Linked DNA regions of Homo sapiens: region 1 is linked to region 2. The links come from fine-mapping of genetic effects on gene expression. Tissue or cell type: whole blood. Region 2 holds a variant in brackets; the other region holds the start of a gene. All regions are shown on one strand. Distances are between the middles of the regions.

Evidence for each region. PIP is the estimated chance that this variant, and not a neighbour inherited with it, causes the effect.
Region 1: ACBD6 starts here. The variant in region 2 is fine-mapped to the expression of ACBD6 in whole blood (TOPMed, PIP above 0.99).

The regions. Positions count from the first base shown.
Region 1 is chr1:180,498,132-180,506,319 of GRCh38, reverse strand. It overlaps ACBD6 (acyl-CoA binding domain containing 6), which reads left to right and starts at 3,743. Exons shown (of 8, transcript NM_032360.4): 1 at 3,743-4,275. The coding sequence starts at 4,054. RefSeq lists a silencer at 3,676-3,775 and enhancers at 3,986-4,175, 3,697-4,197, 4,305-4,820, 4,821-5,336.
Region 2 is chr1:180,393,004-180,401,191 of GRCh38, reverse strand. ACBD6 (acyl-CoA binding domain containing 6) reads left to right here. Exons shown (of 8, transcript NM_032360.4): 6 at 3,587-3,676. Among named protein-coding and RNA genes, the nearest start is that of MIR3121, 41 kb to the left of the region's middle. The variant C/G (reference allele first, on the strand shown) is at 3,844.

The sequences.
Region 1 (8,188 bases), 110 kb before region 2:
CACACCTTGAGGAAGAATGGGCTGCCTCGGTAAAAGGGTGTTAAGAAAGAACCTATTATACGATTTGGGCTTTGTGGTGATTTGGGAGAGCATCTAAGGAAGCGGGAATATGCTCTCAATTGGATGCAGTCAGAAAGCTGGGGGAAGTCTATGATTGTGTCAGCAGGGAAACGTATCTGAGTCACACGACTTCAAAATAGTAATACCAGTGGTGAATCCCTTGGGGTCTGCAGCACCCTCAATTCTGGCCTCCTCCGAATAAAGTATTCAACTGATGGACATAGGCAGAAGGAGAGACCCAGGCAAGTTTTAGAGCAGCAGTAAAAGTTTATTAAAAAGCTTTAGAGCAGGAATAAAAAGAAGGAAAGTATGCTTGGAAGAAAGCCAAACAGGCAACTTGAAAGGCAAGTACACAGCTTGATATTTTGACTCAGGGTTTGTTTTTGTTTGTCTTGAGACAGATTCTTGCTCTGTTGCCTAGGCTGGAGTGTAGTAGCGCGATCTTGGCTTGCACCCTCCACCTCCCAGGTTCAAGCAATTCTTGTGCCTCAGCCTCCTGAGTAGTTAATTCTGTTTTTTTTGTTTTTTTTGTTTTGTTTTGTTTTGTTTTGTATTTTTAGTAGAGACAGGGTTTCACCATGTTGGCCAGGCTGGTCTCAAACTCCTGACCTCAGATGATCCGCCCGTCTTGGCCCTGCAAAGTGCTGGGATTACAGGCATGAGCCACTGTGTGCCTGGCCTTGGGGTTTTATATATTGGCTTACTTCTGCGGTCTTGCATTACTTCTCCCCGATTCTTCCCTTGGGGTGGGCTGTCCGCATGCACATGCTTGAGCCCACTCGCCCCACTCCTGAGATCTTATCGGGAAGCTGCTGATCACTAGTTTCAGGTGTTTTCTATCAGGAGCCTGCTGTTCCCTGGTGCCAGCTGTGATCAATTATTATTTTAGTGAGACAGTTAACAACCGCTTGACCATCACCTGATGGTTGCCCGACATTCCTGATATGTGCGTGTGGTGCGGAGCCCTCTCCTGCCCTGCTCATTCCTGACTAGCTACCTACTGTAACAAGATTGAGATCTTGGGCATCTCAGTCTTATCTATAGAGAAGTGGCTAGCATGAGAATAAAGCTGCAATTTTAAAGTAGTAGTAGTTATTTGTTTGGGCCAAGAAAAAGGTGTTGTATTTTGTAGTCAGTAAAGTGAGCTTTTTGTCTGTGCTTAGAAAAGCTTAATGAAGTGGTTTGCTTTGTATCATTGTATCATGATTTCAGAGTGACCTTGTCTGCAGTTGCTATTTTGTGAGATTATTTCTCTTCAATAGGAGAATAACAAGGCCTAGCTGTGAGTGTCAGGCCAGCTTCTCAATGTTAAGGACTCTTTCCTTTTTCTTTCTTACATTTTAGTTTTATAATACATTTTTCATTCAAATATACATACAGAAAAGTACATAAATTATAAATGAATTTTCATAAAGTGAACACATCAGTGTACTAATGTTCGGCTTAAGAAACAACATATCCAACTTCCAGAAGTCCCCTTCATGCACCCTTCAGATCACTAACCCTGAGGTTACCCACTATCCTGAGTCTAACACCACAGATTAGTTTTGCCTGATTTTGAATTTTTTATGACTAGAAACATGTAATATGCACTTTTTTGAGTATAGGCTTATACTCAACATTATGTTTGAGATTCATTCATGTTATTCTGTGTCATTGTAATTAGTTCATTCTCACTGATGAATAGTATTCCATCATGTAAGCACACCAGTTTATCTCCATTCTAGTGTTGATGGACATTCAGGAGCTTCCAGTTTGGAGCAATTAGGAATTAGTTCATAGTGCTGCTATGAATGTTCTCGTACATGTTTTTGGTGAATGCCATGTATATATTCCCGCTGGGGAGGAGTCGAATTGTTGTATATTTATGTTCAGCTTTAGTAGATAGTGCCAAACATTTTTCCACAGTGATTGTACCAATTTATGCTCACACCAGCAGTGTAAAAGAATTCTGGTTGCTCTCTTTCCCATGTTATGTAAACTCTTCCAGAATACAGAAAAAGATGAAAACTTCTAAATGCATTCTACAAGGATTCTATTACCTTGATACAAAATTGAGAAAGTATAGAAAAGGAAAACTATAGGTTAATGACATCTTTAAATGGAACTGTAAAGATAATGAAAATATTAGCAAACTGAACCTACAAATTTTTTAAAAAAACCAAACCAGGACCAGAATGGGTTTATTCCAAGAACAGAAGTAATGCTCAAAACTAGGAGGTTTTGAAATAATGCATACTAATTTATCAATGTTAGCTATTATATAATTCATTAAATCCCAAATTTATTTTTGTTAATATAATTCATTAAAATAGAAACTGTTAATATAATTCCTTTCGAAGACTAGAGGAGAAAAGCAGATAATCTCCAAAGATGCCAAAAAAGCCGTTGATAATATTCAATTCTCACTTTAATAAAAATTCTAGAAACAAAGATATAAAAGTCCATGTTATATCTCCTTCAGTCTACTTGTCGGGTTCATCATCCATTATTACCCCACATGAAAGCTAACTTCTTTTTCCTTGCTCCTCCATTTGCTAGCTGTGTAGCCTTTGACAAGTTACTTAACCACTCTGTGCTGATTTCCTATGTGTAGTAAAATAAGAGTACCTACCTTATGTTGTAATGATCAAGTCCTCAATACATTATTCTTAATCACTTTTTAATTGCAAGAATTTGGTCATTAAACATCCCTTTGACTGGATTGCGAGCACCTTGACAGCAGGGACTAACAGTGGAACTTTCTGGAGACTTAAGGAATGTCTGTTGAATCCTGATGCAAGCTTTCTCACCTTCCTGTGTTCTCTCATTGCTTCCTCATCCTGTCCAGCCGTCCGTCCACCCGTCGCAAGCCTAACCCCAGTCAATAACCACTGTTTACAACACTTTCTTTGTACCCTTCTTATAGTGCTTATTACATTGTTTTGAATACTAAATGAATATATAGTGCGTCGTTGTGTTTAACATTTAGGACATAACCACTCATAATGTTACAGTTAAAAAAATAGTTTTGTGCATTCCTCTAGGGCCGAACTGTGCCGTACTTCTGGTTTCACTGTACAGTGTCTACAAAGCACAGTGTCAAAGACAGAGCTCGGGATGAGAACTGGGCTAAGGCGCGCCCCGAACTCCCCAAACCCTATTATTCAGGGCCCGGAGAGGTGCGGGCTCCGAAGGTGTGGAGAGCGAAACACGCAGAGCAGTGATTCCACTCATCAGTCACACAGTAAGACGGGACAGCCCCATCTCGCAGTTTTTCATTATTCAACACAGAGCCCAACGCGCACGCAACAGATCCGCGCGCAGGGCTGTTTGGAGGCGCTTGGGGCGCACAATCTGGGGCAGGCGGAACCTTAGTCCTCAGCCTCGCGTTTCCCGCGACTCCGCTCTCACCGCTACACTACCACACAAACGGCCTCCTTCCCCCACCCCCGGGGGCCCATCCCGGTGGCGGGCTCCGGAGCTCGGGACTGCTAATTTCAGCGAAACGATTAAAAGACGCCCCTACAGCTGACGGCACTTTCTCTCCTCCGGCAGGGAAGGACGTCCAGCGTAGCGTCGCCCGCGCTTCCCCGCCGGCGCAGAGCAGGCCTCACAGAATCGCACGCCGCTGGCACGCACGCCGCCCCGCCCCCACGGCCCAGCGCCAGCCGCGCCCCGCGCTCGCACGCATCCCGGCCTCACTGCCCCTCGACTCCTGTTCCGTTGGAGGGGCCTGAGGCGAGCCTGAGCGCGCTGTTGGCCGGAGGGAAGCCGGAGGAGACCGGGTCGACTGGGCAGAGCGGCAGAGGGTCGAGGAGCCTGCTCTGCACGCCCAGGGAGTAGAAGTGGGCAGGGAGCAGGGTCACGTGAGGGAGCGCGCCGCGACTGAGCTTGGGTCCGACTGGAGCTCAGGCTCGCGACCCAGACTGGTGGGCCAGGCCTCCAAGCCGGCCTTACACCCAATCCAAGGAGGACAGACCGGACACAGAGGGACGGAGCGAGCAAGGAGACATGGCTTCATCATTCCTGCCCGCGGGGGCCATCACCGGCGACAGCGGTGGAGAGCTGAGCTCAGGGGACGACTCCGGGGAGGTGGAGTTCCCCCATAGCCCTGAGATCGAGGAGACCAGTTGCCTGGCCGAGCTGTTTGAGAAGGCTGCCGCGCACCTGCAAGGCCTGATTCAGGTGGCCAGCAGGGAGCAGCTCTTGTACCTGTATGCCAGGTACAAACAGGTAAAGTAGCAGGGAGAGGGTGGATGGGGGAGAAAGACACGGAGCCTTCTTCCTCAACAACTGATAGCAAGCATGTATGGTTAATAGCTAGGTGTAATGAAGCTTGTGTATGTGTATTTTGTTTTGTTTTTTTTTTTTTGACCATCTGCTGGGGATGAGCATCATCCTGAACGTGGAAAAGATGTTTGCTTTCTTAGGAGTGATGTTTATTTAGCTGGACACTGGACATTGTTTTTGTGTTTTTTTCTCTGACTTATTCAGTGATCTTGCATTTTACCAGCCCAAGAACCTTTACAAAATGAGGATAAAATAAGATATATCATTCATTTACTCTTTCCCAGAGGGCCACATGGAAGTAAATACGGTAAAGTTAATAAAACTATATAGAGATCCAAAAAGATAATAGGATTGTAATAATGTGATGCAGGGCTGGGCGTGGTTGCTCACGGCTGTAATCCCAGCACTTTGGGAGGCCGAGGCGGGAGGATCACCTGAGGTCGGGAGTTGGAGACCAGCCTGACCAACATGGAGAAACCCCGTCTCTACTAAGTTAGCCGAGCGTGGTGGCGCATGCCTGTAATCCCAGCTACTCGGGAGGCTGAGGAGGCGGAGGTTGCGGTGAGCGAAGATTGTGCGCCATTGCACTCCAGCCTGGGCAACAAGAGCGAAGAAACTCCACCTCAAATAATAATAATAATAATAATGTGATGCAATGCAAAATGCAGTATTACAACTTTTATTGTGATTTTTATAAAATCCTAAATATCTTTGATTTATGTTTTCGTTGAGTATGTCTTCCTTTCTGTTTGATACAATCTAAAAATTTTAGAGCTATGAACACCAGAGGAAATAATGCCCTTCTTTTACAGTAAAGGAAACTGAAGGCCATAGAGAGTAGGCACCTTTCCTAGGGTCATACAAATACATCAGTCAGAACTGGATTGTAGCTCCTGACTCAGTCTAAGGCTGTGAACTTTACCTGGAAATAGGGAGGTGTATAGACACGTTTAATTTATAATTCAGGGTGACATTGGTTGGTACCAGAAGGAAAATAATTGCTTTATCATAAGCAACATATATTTGTTCAGCAGCTTTTATGTGCAAGACACTTGGGTATAATGCCTACAGAGAATGCAGAGAAGCAAAAACATCATGACACTTTGCAGAGAAGCAAAAACATCATGACACTCACTTTTTTTTTTTTTTTTTTTTTTTACAGAGGGTCTGGGTTTCACCACATTTCCCAGGCTGGTCTTGAACTCCTGAGCTCAGACGATCCACCTGCCCAAAGTGCTGGGATTACAGGCATGAGCCACTGCACCTGGCTGACACTTTTTTTTTTTTTTTTTTGAGATGGAGTTTTGCTCCTGTTGCCCAGGCTGGAGTGCAGTGGCTGGATCTTAGCTCACTGCAACCTCTACCTCCCCGGTTCAAGCGATTGTCCTGTCCCAGCCTCCCGAGTAGCTGGGATTACAGGTGCCTGCCGCCATGCCCAACTAATTTCTTGTATTTTTAGAAGAGACGGGGTTTCATCATGTTCGCCAGGCTGGTCTTGAACTCCTGACCTTAGGTGATCTGCCTGCCTTGGCCTCCCAAAGTGCTGGGATTACAGGTGTGAGCCACCACGCCCCGCCAACATTTGCTTTAAGAGACTTAAAGTACTTGAGGAGTCTAGGTTTGAACATACCTGAAAAATTGCTGACAAGAGTTAAATAACAGTTCAGGAAAATTACAGCTCTTTGAAACACTAGAGGAAAGGAAATTCTGGATAATAGCCTATTTTGTTTTATTAAAAATGTGTAAACTTTTTTTCTTTTTGCCTCTTGACATAGTTACGTATTTTCCCCTGTATTTGTTAAAGGAAAAATAAGTTGGGGGAGAGGTCCTGCTGTGTTCTTTTTTTTTTTTTTTTAACTAAAAAAGTTTTTTTAGAGACAGGATCTTGTTTCGTTGCTCAGGCTGGAGGGCAGTTACACACTCATAGCTCACTGCAGCCTTGAAGCTTCTGGCTTCAAGCGATCCTCCTGCTTACGCCTCCTGAAGTACTGTTATTACAGACATGATCCCGCATGCCCAGCCCCACTGTGTTCTTAAACTGGATGTACTGAGTAAAAATGAACCTTGTTTTGAAGGTTGATGGTCATTATTATGAATATCAGTTAATGTGACCTGAGAGAGAAAGCTGTAGGAACAAATGGTATAAATTATAGTGTCGAATGAAAATTACCTCCAAATTGGCCTTGGAATTAGCTTTCTTGGAAAAGTTGTAGATATCTGTTTTCTCTTTGGTCATTTGTTATACTTTGTCCTAATAACATTAGAGTGAAACTTTTGATTATTTAACAAATATTTACTGAGAATCATATTTTAGGACCTGTAATATGTCTGATGATTCTCTGGGCAGTATGAGACTAATTTTCCCCAAATTCCCTAGAAAATATTATTTTTCGTTCTAGGACATATCTTTGTTTATTGATATTGGTGTCATTATTAAAATACTATATTTCTAAGTCATCAGTGAACTGTAGTCACCTATCGACTTGGGAACCATTTTGTCTCAGGTATACTCACTTCATCCAGATAATATGAAGGAGGGATGTCCCTCATCCTTTCAAGAACTTGACTTTATGGTGTTTAGAGATATTCTGTATCTGAAAATAAAATTCTGCATTGTTAGAGAATAATATGCTTACTTATATATGACACTGGGCCGCAGTTTTCATCAATCTCCTAAATATTTTTGACAAAATTGTGAGATAGTGTTAAGAATAGCATCTTTGATAGAATAATAAAGTTGGAAGTCCAATATCATTTCTGCATATTGGATCAAAATTTATAAAATAACGTTTTGTATTCAGAATAGCACCCTATTTTGTAGGCTGGATGAGGTTGTTGGCAGGAAGATAATAAAAATAAGCTGAAATATGAACCTTATTTTCTCAGGGAGAACTCTAAACTTAGCATCATAGCTTTATTAGTCTCAGATAAGCCTATGGCTTCAGAATAATCTTTTAATAAAGTTTTAACAAAATCGAATGAACAATTTTTTGGTCCTTCTTTACATCAGCCTACACTCTCCCTCCTAAAGATAGCTAATTGACAGCTGTGAAAACTGGAGAGTAATGAAAATTTGTGAATTCCTGTTGACTTCATAAGATACTGTTTAATAATACTTTTTTTTTTTTTTTTGAGACAGTTTTGCTCTGTCATCCAGGCTGGAATGCAGTGGCGTAATCTGGGCTCACTACAACCTCCGCCTCCTAGGTTCAAGCTATTCTCTTGCCTCAGCTTCCCGAGTAGCTGTGATTACAGGTGTCTGCCACCGCACCTGATTGATTTTTGTATTTTTAGTAGAGATGGGGTTTCACCATGTTGGCCATGGTTGACCAGGCTGGTCTCCTGATCTCAGGTGATCCACCTGCCTTGGCCTCCCAAAGTGCTGGGATTACAGGCATGAGCCACCGTGCCTTAATACTACTTTATTAAATATTAACCCTTGAGTCAAGTCTTACATTTTGTGTGATGAGATGGGAAGTACACACAAAGTACTTCTGCTGCATACTGAATTATGTTAACTATTTTGAGGAAAAGCACTTGTGTAATTTCTGAGTCGCAAAATGAACTATATTCTTTTCCAATTTTACTTAACAGAACAACTCACAGATAATTATACCTACTCAAATTTGGGTATTTGGCAGGTAGTTTCTTAAAAATGAACGAAATAAGCCTGTCACTTCAAGGAAAACAACTCAAAGTGTTTGTTGCCAGTAATAACATTTGAACCTTCAAGTGAAAATGAGAAATTTGGAAAATCTATATCTGCCACCATGAGCTTGACAGCTTCCCAGTACTTAAAAACTTTTTTTGATGAGATAAGTGGTGACAGTCATGAATGTGAACGTTTGCTGTTATA
Region 2 (8,188 bases):
CAGGGCTCTCCAGTGTTCGTGGTCTTCTGGTGGCCTAACAAAGGTTCCTTTTAATAATGGCTCTCCCTCACCAATCTCCTGAATACTTCTGGGATATTTTTCCAGAAGAGTTTTAAAAATTAGAAACAAAGAATTGTCACTTATTTTGGTAGCAATAAAAATAAATTTAACTTGAAAATTTATAAGAGATTATATCACTCATGGAAAAAGATAAAACAATTATATAGACAAATATGTAAAATAGTTCATAAATTTAGATAAAGTCTTAGAAGATATAGCTTTAATGCACACCTAAGTCATGGTTTTCCTTCTGGAGGAGAGATTTTGGAATTCTTTACCTAAAATAGTTTAATAATTGTAGTGGTCTAGGTGTGTTTGTGGTTAACAAAGAGAAAGGAAAGAAACCACAGGTGTTTATTTCCTGATTTTATCATGATTAATTATAAGGATAGCATCTCTGCAAATTACTGGTTATGTTAGTGAGTGAATAATAATCTTAAATTAGAGCATGTTTATAGGAATTTTATAATTTGAAGAAGTAAAAGGTATCACAGACACCTCATTTTGCTGGTTTTTGTTCATTTAAATATAGAGCATCTTGAAGGTTAAAATTCCAAAGCCTGATTTGTTTTGTCTGTGTTTATTTACAAGTATGTTTAATCCTACTCTTGTTTTTGAGCTTTTTAATACTGCATGGAATATTAATCATTAGGTGGTCTTAATGTAGATATCTTCAGTGCTTCTACAGAAAGTCATTGTCAGAGAATTCATTCTAATTCAAGGTTAATTAGTGTACCATTAAAATAATGTGTTACAAGAATTAATTGCATTGCAGGTCAGAAAATGTGTTAAAAAGTATGGTGTAAATGTCTGAGAGCACATCATCCTTCTTAAAACATTGCTATACATGTGCCCCGCTTCTGGAAAATATATCCAAAGTGAAAATCACTATGGAGGTCCAGTCATAGGTGTTTCCCCTAAAGTAAATTTTTGGCATCACATGGAAAATTTAAAATATGGGAAATTTAAAATATAACTCCCATTAACAGTAAAATGTGTTGCTTGTCAGCTTTACCATTGAAACAGCTAAGGATTTACATTTTAGCTTTAGTTGATATAACCCTATTGGGTCAAACCTAAGGAAAATTCAGGAACGTGGCTGAGAGATAGAAATTATCTATACATCTTATGGTAAAAGTACAAGACATATTATGTTGTCCTACTTAACTATTACATAGTTTTTGTAAGTACCCTATGTAAATATATCACACATCGTCTTAACTATGTATAACTCTTGTCAATAGTTTAACCTAATAGCCATAAAATGCACACTTACAATTAGAACTAAAAATGATAGACTTTGAAATTTTGTCTGATTCTTTTAATGTATTAATAAATGCTGTGAAACAATAACATGGACCTGTAGAATATTTTATTCATTAGTATTTATTCAGAGTCTCATTAAAATATCTAATTGTTCATATGGAGGATTTCTGAATTAGAGCCCTAGTAACAGCAGGTCACATTAGAGCTACAAAAATTTTAACATAGGAAACTGCTCTAGAACTCAACAATACATTTTCACCTGGACTTTTAGAATTGTCTCCACTGAAAAATAACTTCTGGCTGGGCGTGGTGGCTCACGCCTGTAATCCCAGCACTTTGGGAGGCCAAGGCAGGTGGATCACAAGGTCAGGAGTTCGAGACCAGCCTGGCCAACATGGTGAAACCCCATCTCTACTAAAAAGAAATACAAAAATTAGCTGGGCATGGTGGCGGGTCCCTGTAATCCCAGCTATTTGGGAGGCTGAGGCAGAACTGCTTGAAACCGGAAGGCAGAGGTTGCAGTAAGCGGAGATCCCGCCACTGCACTCCAGCCTCAGCAAAAGAGCAAAACTCCGTCTCAAAATAAATAAATAAATAAATAAAAAATAACTCCTAGTGGGCTCTGAACAAGGCAAAATAAATTTTTTTTATTTTGATACTACAATAAATTGTGAATGATTTGACCACACTTTTTCTCTGCTTTCCCCCCTCTTAGGATTTTGTGTAAGCTTATTAGAAAACAGATATTTACAGGTAAATAAAAGTAAATCAAGCAAATGAAAGCAAAAGAAGAAGACAATTTGTAGGGAAGAAGTTTTCCTACTTTGTTTTTTGTTTAAAGAATAGATCCTAGTTTAATTATTTGAAATAATAGGTATGTGAAGAAAGTCTGAATGATAAAAAGAATGTAGGCAGTTTTAGAAAAGCTATTTCTTGAAAGGTGCTTTTTACTTTAAATCAATCCTTGCCCTAGCTTATATCTATTTAAATCTTTTCTAAAATCACATAAAGTAGGGATGTCAACTTAATGTGGAAAAACATTCCATTCTTTATAAATGACAACATCATCACCATCCTCAGAAAGTAGTAAGCCATGCATCACTCATTTATTCAGAAAAGCCCTTAGCTTTTGGGGTTTTGTTTATTCTTTTGAACCAAGTAGGCTTTTTTTCATTAACTAAAACAAGATTTTCTGGCAGTAGAGAATAGAAATAACACACGTAATAGTAACTGTGAGTCTTTGGTAGACAAGTGTTAAAATTAATATTTCATATTTAGTACTTTATCTCCTAATATTTAGTCATCCATTCTCTTTTACAAGTGGCTTTCACAGTCAACTGTTTGGTGATAGACACTGATAGATTGTACTAGTGTTTTTGAGGTATTTCAGAGTGTAAACTTGCAATAGTAAGGAGAAATGCTTATTTTCAAACTGGTTAAATAATCTTTTTAAGGAATGAACTCGAGGAAATTTAGTTATCATACATTTAGATTATGATTTCTACCTAGGTTTAAGTGCTTGCTTTTTTATTCTTATGATTTCTTTCCAGAAAAAAAGAAATGGACATAATATTTAAGAAAACTATACTTTATATTTAAAGTACAGTTTACAAAGCATTTTCTTACAGTTCATTTAGCAGGTATTATTTATATTATTGTTGTTATTACTATCATTATCTCCACTCTGTAAGTGAACTGATTGAGCTGAAAGCAGGCATTGGGCTAGTACAGACCCAGAAGTAGATATTGGGGCTTCCTATTGATTGTTTTCATTGTTGTTGTTGTTGTTGTTGTTGTTGTTGTTGTAGTTTTTGAGATGGAGTTTTGCCCTGTCACCCAGGCTGGAGTGCAGTGGTACAATCTCGGCCCACTGCAACCTCCGCCTCCCGAGTTCAAGCGATTCTCCTGCCTCATCCTCCCAAGTAGCTGGGATTACAAGCACCCATCACCATGCCCAGCTAATTTTTGTATTTTTAGCAGAGACAGGGTTTCACCATGTTGGCCAGGCTGGTCTCGAACTCTTGACCTCAAGTGATCCACCCACCTCGGCCTTTCAAAGTGCTGGGATTACAGGCATGAGCCACCATGCCCTGCCCCATTGATTGTTTATTGCTTTTTCCATAGTGCATTTTTTATATCAATCATTCTTAGAATAATTAACCCATAATTTTTTATATTTCCTTGTCTTTCTTAAAACATTATATCTTTTACATGGCTCCACAACTGAGATAACAAATTCATTTATCTTCTGTGTTTTTAGGGTAGGGCTCTACTTCACTGGGCCTGTGATCGAGGACATAAGGAACTAGTCACAGTGTTGCTGCAACATAGAGCTGACATTAACTGTCAGGTAAGAGTGATAAAGAAGAGCTTTTATTTTTTAAATTGAAGTATAATTCGCATAACATAAAATTTACCAGATTAACTCTTTTGAAATGTGCAATTCAGTGGCGTTTAGTACATTTCACAATGTTGTGTAATCATTGCTACTATATAGTTCCGTAATACTGTTGTCAC[C/G]GCAAAAGAAAACCCTGTTCCCACTAAGCAGTCACTTTTTAACATTTTTTTTATTTCTCCCCTTGCCCCAGACCTTGGCAACCACTAATCTGCTTTCTGTTTCTATAGATTTGCCTATTCTGGATATTTTATATAAATGGGAATCTTAAAATTTATGGTTGTGTTTGACTTCTTTTACTTAGCATAAAGTTTTGAAGGTGTATCTATATTGTAACATGTAACAATACCTCATTCCTTTTTATGGCTGAATTTTTTGGATATCCCAAATGTTGTTTATCCATTAATCAATTGATGGGCAGCTTGAGTTGTTTCTGTCTTTTGGCAGTTGTGAATAATGCCACTGTGAACATTTGTGTCCTTGTATTTTTATTTGAATACCTGTTGTCAGTTCTTTTGGTTGTAGACATAGGAGTGGAGTTACTGGGTCATATGGTAATTTGATGTTTAACTTTTTGAGCAACTGACAAACTGTTTTCCATAGGAGCTACACCATTTTTCATGCCCAGCAGCTGTGTATGATGCTTCCAGTTTCACCACATCCTCACCAATACTTGTTATTTTTGCTTTTTTAAAAATAACTATTTTAGTGGGTATGAAGTGATATCTCATCATGGTATAATTTTGATTTACATTTCCCTAATGACTAATGATATGGAGTACCTTTTCATACGCTTGTTGACTATTTGCATATCTTTTCTGGAGAAATGTCTGTTTAAGTCTTTGCCCATTTTAAAGTGATTTGTCTTTTTGTTGTTGAGTTGTAGGAGTGCTTTATATATTCTGGATACTAGACCCTTATCAGATACATGATTTGCAAGTGTCTTCTCCCTTTTTGTGGGTTTTCTCTTTATTTTCTTGATGGTGTCTTTTGATGCACAGGTTGTAAATTTTGATGAACTCTATCATTTGTTTTCTCTTTTTTCCTTTTGTTTATGGTGTCATACTTTAGAAACCATTGCCAAATCCAAGGTCATTAAAATTTACCCCTTTCCAGAACCTAAGGTTTTGGTTTTCTTCCTCTTTTTTATTGTGGTAAAATACTCATAGCATAAAATTTACCATTTTAACAATTTTAAGTGTATAGTTATGTGGCATTAAATACATTTGTATTGTGTGTGCCCATCACCAGCACCCATCTCCAGAACTTTTTCATCTCCCCCAACTGAAACTCTAACCATTAAACACTAATTTCCCATTCCTCCATTCCCTCAGCCCCTGGCAACTACCATTCTACTTTCTATTTCTGTGAATTTGACTACTCTAGGTACCTCATATAAGTGGAATCATACAATATTTGTCCCTTTTTGACTGGCTTATTTCACTCAGCATAACATCATCAAGGTTCATCCATGTGGTTGCATGTGTCAAAATTTCCTTCCCTTTTAAAGCCGAATATTATTTGTATGTATTTACCATACTTTGTTTATTCCAATATCTGTGGCACTTGGTTTGCTTTTACCTTTTGGCGATTATGAATAAGGATGCTGTGAACATGGGTGTACAAATGTCTGTTCAAGTCCCTGCTTTCACTTCTTTTGAGTATATACCCTAGAAATAGAATAGCTTGATCATATGATAATTCTACGTTTAATTTTTTGAGGAATTGCCATATTGTTTCCCACAGTAGCTGCACCATTTTACATTCCCACCAGTAATACACAGATATTCAAATTTCTCCGCATCCTTGTCCACACTTGTTGTTTTCTGTGCTTTTGACAATAGACATCCTAATGACTGATTTGGGTACCTTTTATTTCATTTTCTTGCCTAATTGCTCCGGCTGGGCCTTTCAGTACTAGGTTGAATAGAAGTGGTAACATAGGCATCTTTGTCTTTTTACACTTAGGTTCTGGAAAAAGCTAAAAATAAAAATAAAAAAAAATCACACAACACTGGTGTTACCATAAATCATGGTAATATCATCATTAAATTTGACTACCAAATCTTCTGGTCTTTATCTTCAGAATACCTCCTATTTCACAGAGAAAGTAGAATAAATGTTTATCACCAACCCAGATCTCAGCCAGTAGCTCCAGACACACATATCTCTTCTTTGATATCCCTCAGACACTTCAAACGCACAATATCTAACACTAAACACCAGCATCCTTCAACAGTCCACCCTTCCCCGCCCACTACTCACCATAATTGGCACCATCATCCAACCAGTTCCCAGGAGAATGTATCATAATTTAGTTAACTAGTACCATGTAAATGGACTGTAACAATTTATACTTCCACCAGCAGTGTGTGAGAGAATTCCTGTTTCTCTAGCCATGCCAAATAGTTTATCATAACACTTTTTGTTCTCTGCCTGTTTGATGAATGATGAATGGTATATTATATTTTTAATATAGCTTTTCCTCAGTTTCCCATTGTATTGATGGTATTTTTCTCCTTACAGGAACTTTTTATATAGTAAGGAAAATTTGCACTTTCTTTGTGATATAGTTGTTTAAATTTTCCCCCACATTTTCTTCTAGTACTTTCATTATTTCGTGGTTTTTATCAACTCATCTATAATTGATATATGTATCCTATGTATGTAATAGGAATTTTACTTTTGTCCAGATGGTGCCAACTTTATTTTTGTCCAGATGACTAGCCAGTTCCAGTAATGTTTATGGAATAATTGGTATCTTTTCTATAGCAATTTGAACTGTCTTACCATAGTCTCAATTCTTTTATGTATTTCAGTCTATCTTGGGGGCTTGTTCTTCCATTCCATTGCTCTGGTTTTCTGTTCATGTATTTGTGCTACACTGTTTTAAGTATTATAGCTTCAAAATATATTTTTAAATCCGGTTGGGCAAATTCCTTCACTACTCATTCAAAATACTTTCTACTATTTTTGCTCATTTATTTTTCTGTGTAAATTTCAAAGTCATTTTTTCAACATCCAGCTTTCCCCAACCACTATTACCACTAAATTAAAACAACAAAGAAAAAAAAAAAAACTGGCCAGATGTGATGGCTCATGCCTGTAATTCTAGCACTTTAGGGGGCTGAGTCAGGAGGATCACTTGAGGCCAGGAGTTTGAGACCAGCCTGGGCAACATAGTGAGACCCCATCTCCACACATTTTTTTTTAATTAGATGTAGTGGTGGGTGCCTGTAGTCCTAACTACTCTGGAGGCTGTGGTGGGAGGATCACTTGAGCCCAGGAGTTTGAGGTTACAGTGAACTATGATTGTGCCACTGCATTCCATCCTGGGTGACAGAGCATAAGACCCTGTCTCTAAAAAACAACAAAACAGTTTTTTGAACCAAACACATTGTTTGGAGGTATTGTATATGGAAATATCCCCAAGTTAGGCATTGCCTGAGGTTTTTGCCTTGCGGATTTCTTACGTTCTATTTGTTTGGATAGTGTGAGACAAACAATCCAAAAACTATAGGTGGCTTTATAGAACATTCTTTACTAAACACTAAGCTTTAATGCAAAGTAAAAGTTCCGTGTAGGTTTTTAGGACGGATCTGTTAGAATTATATGCCTGCCACAATGTTTTCCTTTGTATTCACATGACCATTGTGTGTAGCCACCAGCTTTGATTCTCTTTTGACAGTCATAATCTATACAATCTAACTTTAGTTAATGGGTTGCTTTTGGCTTTTCCAGTTTGAGTTGCTAACATGCTTCGAAGTCAGAGGGCTTCTGGAGATTAGCGCTCAGAATAACTCTTTTGCTTGTAATATCTTCTTTGGTTTTGTTATTGAAAACGCTTTTCAAATATAGACAATACAAACATAATAAATGGAAGGAAAGGTTCATCTCCTCATGACTCTATATTTCTTAAACAACATTATTATTGACTGGCCTATTGGTTGCCAAAAAGGAAAATCAATTTTATTGGAAGTATTTGCTTGGCCACAGATCTTGGTACTAACTCAGCACAGACAGTCTGATGTTATCAGCTATCTGAAGACTAATTTTTACCATTAGTCTGAAACGAAGCAGTAATTAGAGATATGTCAAAGTCTACTCTGTGTTTTCCTGTCATTTTTTACCCTTCAGTCTATCTCATACATTTTTTTTTATACTGCGGCTTCTATGTTGTGTGACTGTGATGGAATTGAAGCTTGAAATTTTATTTCTAAGAAAGATGCTGTATAGATTTCATTTGTTATCTGACAGTATTATGGATACAGTTTTGTCTCTTCCACTGCTTGGTATTGATTTTTAATTCCACTCTGGAAGTTAGGTTCTTGCCACATTTGGGATTAGGATATGGCTTACGGGCGTGCGCACGCACACACACACACCCTTCTCTGACTTCTTGAGTAACTTTGATTTTTCAAGCCCTGAAGAAAGATTAAAACTACCCCCCAAAGCACATTAAAAGGT